Linked DNA regions of Homo sapiens. The protein of the gene in region 2 interacts with the protein of the main gene of each other region in a biochemical or structural test. Each region holds a gene or a part of one and is shown on either strand. Other genes may lie near its edges.

What was found. The genes of interacting proteins can lie anywhere in the genome.
Region 1: the proteins of NAIP (region 2) and HPCA form a complex in vitro, tested with the Homo sapiens proteins (one study listed by BioGRID).

What each region holds. Positions count from the first base shown.
Region 1 is NC_000001.11:32,889,491-32,892,318, forward strand, and holds part of HPCA (neuron-specific calcium-binding protein hippocalcin), read left to right. Parts: intron 1-2,828. UniProt on the Homo sapiens protein: Calcium-binding protein that may play a role in the regulation of voltage-dependent calcium channels. May also play a role in cyclic-nucleotide-mediated signaling through the regulation of adenylate and guanylate cyclases.
Region 2 is NC_000005.10:71,015,340-71,018,839, reverse strand, and holds part of NAIP (baculoviral IAP repeat-containing protein 1), read left to right. Parts: intron 1-3,500. UniProt on the Homo sapiens protein: Anti-apoptotic protein which acts by inhibiting the activities of CASP3, CASP7 and CASP9. Can inhibit the autocleavage of pro-CASP9 and cleavage of pro-CASP3 by CASP9.

The DNA.
Region 1 (2,828 bases), on a different chromosome or scaffold from region 2:
TTTCCCACAGTTGCTTCATCATTATCAGTGTGTGTGTGCGTGTGTGCACACTAGTGTGTAACATTTTCTTGCTGTTCTGAACATTGGCCCTTTACCCCTGGATACATTAGGATATATTTCCTAAAAATAAGCACATTCTCTTACATAACCCATAATATGATTACCAAAGCCAGGATATTTAACATAGAAACAATGCTATTATCTAATCTACCAACCATATTCCAATTTTGCCAACTGTCTCCATAATGTTCTTTATAGCATTTTTGGCCCTGACCTGGGGTCATGCATTGCATCTAGTTCTCATGTCTCTTTAGCCCCCTTTAATCTGGAATAGCTCCTCATCCTTTCTTTATCTTTTATGAATTGACATTTCTGCAGAGCACAGTCCAGCTATGTCTAGTTGATCCTCATTTACACCAGAGGAAACGGATGCTCAGAGAGATAAAGGCACTTGCTTGAGGCCACACAGCCTGTGTGAGTGGGCCATCTGGCACCACTGTCTACATTCCATCTGGATACCCAGCCATCTTCTAACTAATTGATTGAGGGCCCACTATGAGCCTAGCATTGAGTGAGGTGCTCATGAGCTCAGTGCGTGCTTACAACAACCCCATGAGGCTCAGAGAGGTGAGGTGATGTGCCCAAAATCACACAGCACATAAGTGGAGAAAAGCTCTGGCTGGCCACTACTTAGAGCTGTCTACTGAGAGGGCTCTGGACTCATAGCCAGGAGGTCTGGCTTCCAGTTCTGGAAGTGGCCTTCAATCTTAGGTTGCTCATCTGTACGCTCATACTGACTTCACAAGGAGATTTAAGGACCGGATATAAATGCCTTTTGTTAGTACAAGTTTAAGTGTGCTGCATGTTAGCTTTATTTCAGAAACCACCCATCCCCTCAGCCCAGCCTTGAAGATGGCCAGGGCTCTGGCTCTATTTTATCTGCCTTTTTCCTAAGGCTTTACACATTTTTTCACCTGTAAAGTGGGGGTGTTAATCCCCTGCCTCACAAGGCTATTGCAGGGATAGAGTGAGATAAGGACTTGAGCGGAAGGCTTGGCATATAATTGGTACTTGGTAGACATTAGCAATTGTCTGTTATTATTTTCTCCTCTGCACATCCTCTGCTCTAGCCAGAAGGGCCTTTTCAGCATCTTTGAAATGTGCCCTGACTAATCCTGTCACGCAGCTTTGCACAAGCTCTTGCCCCCTTTCCTTCTGCATCTCTGAATCCTTTCCCTTCTGGTCCCTCAGCTCCACAGACTGCTGCCCCAGCCACTGCTGGACTCTTGACTTTGGCTTCTCCTCTTGCTAAGGTCTGGGTCTTCTCTCCAGGTGGAGATGTGATGCCCTCCCCATACCTATGGCTAGAGAGGGGAAAGCCCTAATGTTTGCCATGGACTCCTGTGAGCCAGGCATTTGACTCTTTAGTTGCTTGATGGTAGGGGGATCTGGGGGTCCTGATGGTAGGGCCAGGTGGCCAGAATGGTGGAGGATCACCCGGACATGGACAGCAGCTGGGTACTGACTATCTGAAGGAATGTTGGCATTTTACCACTTAGTGTGTTGCACTGGTGTGTACTGGTAAACCCCAGTCCTGCTGGAGCCACCACGCCCGGGTGTCAGTCAAGCTAGACCCATTCCCTGGGCATCCTCAGGACCCCTTTCTGGTGGCCTCTGCTATCCAGACCCTGGCTTCTTTTAGGGCGGCCCGGGGGCCCCAGACAGCTGGTGCACACAGAGCTCTGCAAGCCCCAGTGCCTGATTAATGACAAGTTGGCTCCCATGAAACCATGAGTAAGCAGCAATTCCAGACAATTAGTTAGGAGGCCCAGGAGAAGGCTATCACAGGGTTACTGGTCACTGGCCCAGTTCTTCTCAAGACCCAGCCCTCTGCCAGGTAATGGACACACTGGAGAGGAAGAGACTGCGCCTCTTGGGGCTCCCACTCTGGTGGGGGAGACAGATGTGTAGGTCACACTGACAAGCTCAGTGACAGGGGTGTAAAGGTGTCATCTGGGAACCAGGGGACTACTGAGTGGCAGGGAAGACTTGAGGATGTGGAGGATGAATAATGACTATAATATGAGCTGCTGTTTACTGACCACCCACTCTAGCCAGCCACGGTTCCTCACACATAATCTCATTTAATCTGAGGAAACTGAGGCTCACAGATACATATATGTCCAAGGCTACACAGTTAGTGAGTAGTTCAACCAGGACACCACTCCAGGTCCATCTAACTTTAGAAACTTGAGACTACCAGACCCCTCTATTCATGTGCTGGTCAGACAGGTAGTGATATCCAGTCACAACTGTGGCTACCATTCATTGAGCAGTTACTACAGACCGGGTCTAATGCTAAAGGCCCTGCTGATTATCACCACCCCACACTGCCCAAGCATCCCTCCAGCAGCTAAGAGGGAACAGGTACAAATCGAGTCTCTGCCATCAATTTCCTTCTGAGCCTCAGTTTCTTATCTGGAAAATGGGGATCATGATACCTGTTTTTCAGGGCTTGCGTGAGGTTTAGAAATAGTGCATGTGAAGTACTTGGCACAGAGCGGGCCCCTGATAAGTGGTACTTAGTATCGTTATTCCAGGCAAAGACTGTAAATGCTGGAGAATCTGAAGGGCCAGGGGTGTTTGGCTGTTGGCAGAATCACCCAGCCAGGGGAGACCTGATGGAGGAGGGTCAGCAGTGGACAGATTGTAAAGCGTCTTAAATCCCAAGGGCTGAATGGTTTGAACTTGGTACAGAGGGCAGTGGGAAGTGCCAATGGCTTTTAAATAGGGAAGTCCCTGCCTGGTCCCAGGTTCTGGGGATATGG
Region 2 (3,500 bases):
GAAGTCAGCCAAGAATACAGTTCCCTGGCTGGTTAGGCTGCTTTGGCAAAAATGAAAGTAACTAAAAAAGAGCCTGTGTTGCCAAGTCCACCAATTTCCTTCTGTAAAGGGAAGGAACATGATGCCAAAGAGGAGTTGGGCAGATATTTCTTCTGATGGGAATGTGACCCTCATCGGGTAGATAATCACCAACGAAACTACAGTGGGAGGGCATCAAGAGACAACTGAAACAGGGAACTACACAAGAGTGAAGTTGCCTGTGGACTGACAGAGCTTCCTGCAGAACCACTGCTGGGTTGGATATACATGAATGACAAAGGAGCTCTTTTCCTTGTATTAGGTACTGTCAAATGTACCTTCAAATGAAAGGGTGTGTTTGGTCTTAATTAGCTGAATTCGTTGAAGATCTTCAATTAGCTGCAGCTTTTGCCGGAATGTGTTTAGCTGGGCAAATTCCAAATCGGTTGAGCTGCACAAAGGTGGCAGTACATAAAACATATCTTGTAAAGGGGAACTGCCCAATTCCACCCATAATTGTTAGAAGAAATACTCCCTAGAGGTTACTGAAATGTTGAGAATGCAAACAAACACATTTGGACTGGTTCTGTGATGAAACTAAGGTATCCCTTAATTTTATGTCTTTGACTTAAGTGATGATTGTTGCTGTGATAAGAGGGCCTCTACCTTCGTAGACTTTTTGTATGACCCTACTACTGGGGGAGCAGGATGAAGTGAAAGCCTGTTGAAGACTTACTAGTTCCTTTGCTCCAAATTGTGCTGAATGATGAACAGATTAATATCATTCAAAAGAAAGGAGGCCGGGTGTCCTGGCTTACACCTGTAATCCCAGCACTTTGAGAGGCTGAGGCAAGAGGATTGCTTAAGCCCAGGAATCTGAGGCTGCAGTGAGCTAGAATCATGCCACTGCACTTGTACTACAGCCTTGGCAACAGAGTGAGCCCTTGTCTCCTATAAAAAAAAAAAAAAAAAAAAGGAAAGGGCTGGGCATGGTGGCTCACACCTGTAATCCTAGCACATTGGGAGGCCGAGGCGGGTGGATCACCTGAGGTCAGGAGTTCGAAACCAGCCTGGCCAACATGGTGAAACCCTGTCTCTACTAAAAATAAAAAAATTAGCCGGGCATGGTGGCACATGCCTGTAATCCCAGCTACTCAGGAGGCTGAGGCAGGAGAATTGCTTGAACCTGGGAAGCAGAGGTTGCGGTGAGTCAAAATTTTGCCACTGCACTCCAGCCTGGGTGAACAGAGCAAGACTCCATCTCACTTTGTTGCCCAGGCTGGTTTCAAATTCCTGGGCTCAAGCAATCCTCCCACCTTAGCCTCCCAAAGTGCTGGGATTACAGGTGTGAGCCACTGTGCCCAGTCAAGATTTCTAATGTATCCTAGTCTTGATGAATTAAACAAATAAACCTTTAGGATGATGCAAAAGCAGAATCTACAGTCACTTTAAAGCAGTGTGATGTAAAGAAAAGGGTGGCAGAGTCTCTTGGTGCTATGGGACCCAAGGACATTTACATTGGTGTGGATAAAATGCCCGGAGTGGTGAAAAACTTTATTGTCATTGTTGGACCATGGTGCATAATGTATTGTTATACCTGCTAATAAAAAATTAAACAGCAATTAACTTAGTTTAGTATGACAATACAACTGTAAGTTTAAGAGTGAAAAATGGGCCAGGTGTGGTGGCTCAGGCCTGTAATCCCAGCACTTTAGGAGGCTGAGGTGGGAGGATCACTTGAGCCCAGGGGTTTGAGACCAACTTGGCAACATAGTGAGACCCCCCCCACCAACACCCCCAACACGCTTGTCTCTATAAAAAATGGTGGTGTGCTCCTGTCGTACGAGCTGCTTGGGAAGCTGAGGTGGGAGGATCGCTTCAGCCCTTGAGGTTGAGGCTGCAATGGATGGTGATCAAGCCACTGCACTCCAGCCTAGGTGACAGAGCAAGACCCTGTCTCAAGAAAAAAAAAAAGTGAAAAATGTCCATATAAAAACTTGCACACTAATGTGCACAGCGGTATTATTTATAATAGCCAAAAAGCGTAAACAATCCACACATCCATCAACTGGGTTGAGGAATAAAATATGGTATATGTGATAATAAAGTGTGGTATATCCACATAATGAAATATTATTTGACAATGAAAAGGAATATGAAGTACTAAAACAATACAACATGGATGAATTTCGCTTCCTTTTTTTGTTGTTCTTTTTATTTTATTTTTTAAGCACCTCTACCAACATGAACATTTTGCAAAGTGAAAGCAACCAGACACAAAGGACCACGTACTGTATGATTCAATTTAAATGAAATGTCCCCAGTAGGCAAATCTATAGAGACAGAAAGTAACATAGTAGTTGCCTAGGGCTAGGAGGGTAATGGGGGACATGGAAAGCAACTGCTAATGGGCACAGCGTTTCTTTCTGGGGGGATGAAAATGTTCTAAAATTGATTGTGGTGGTGGTTGTGCATGTTTATGAATATGCTGATATTTATTGAACTGTACATTTTATTTACTTTTTTTAGAGACAGAGCCTCACTCTGTTGTCCAGGCTGGAGTATAGTACTGCAATCATAGCTCCCCGCAGCTTCATATTCCTGGGCTCAAGAGATCCTTCCACCTCAGCCTCCCACGTAGTTAGGACTACAGGCACATGCCACCATGCCCCGCTAAGTTTTCGTTTTCTTAAAAAAAAAGTTTTTTTAGAGACAGGGTCTAGCTATGTTGCCCAGGCTGATCTCAACTCCTGGTCTCAAGCAATCCTCCCGCCTTGGCCTCAAGAGCATTGGGGTTATAGGTATGAGTCACCGCACCCTCAGTTGTTCATTTTAAATGGGTGAATTTTATGATGTGTGAATTATATTTCTTTCTCTTTTTTTGAGATGGAGTTTCACTCTTGTCGCCTAGGCTGGAGTGCAGTGGTGCGATCTCGGCTCACTGCAACCTCTGCCTCGTGGGTTCAAGCAATTCTCCTGCCTCAGCCTCCCGAGTAGCTGAGATTATAGGCATGCGCCACCATGCCCAGCTATTTTTTTTGTATTATTAGTAGAGATGGGGTTTCACCATGTTGGCAAGGCTAGTCTTGAACTCCTGGCCTCAGCCCCCCAAAGTGCTGGGATTATAGGTGTAAGCCACCACAGCCAGCCCCAACTAGCTGGGACTACAAGCACGTGCCACCACACCTGACTAATTTCTTTTTTTTTTTTTTTTTGTATTTTTAGTAGAGATGGGGTTTTGCCATGTTGGCCAGGCTGGTCTCAAACTCCTGACCTCAGGTGATCCACCCACCTCGGCCTCCTAAAGTGCTGAGATTACAGGCATGAGCCACTGCTCCCGATGGATTATATTTCAATATAATTCAATTATGCAATATAATTGCATAATTGTTATCATCTCTCCCTGATATATTATCGGAATGGATGTGACATCTGAATGGGGATGCTGTTGAGGAAAGAGATTTCATGAAATGTACAGTGAG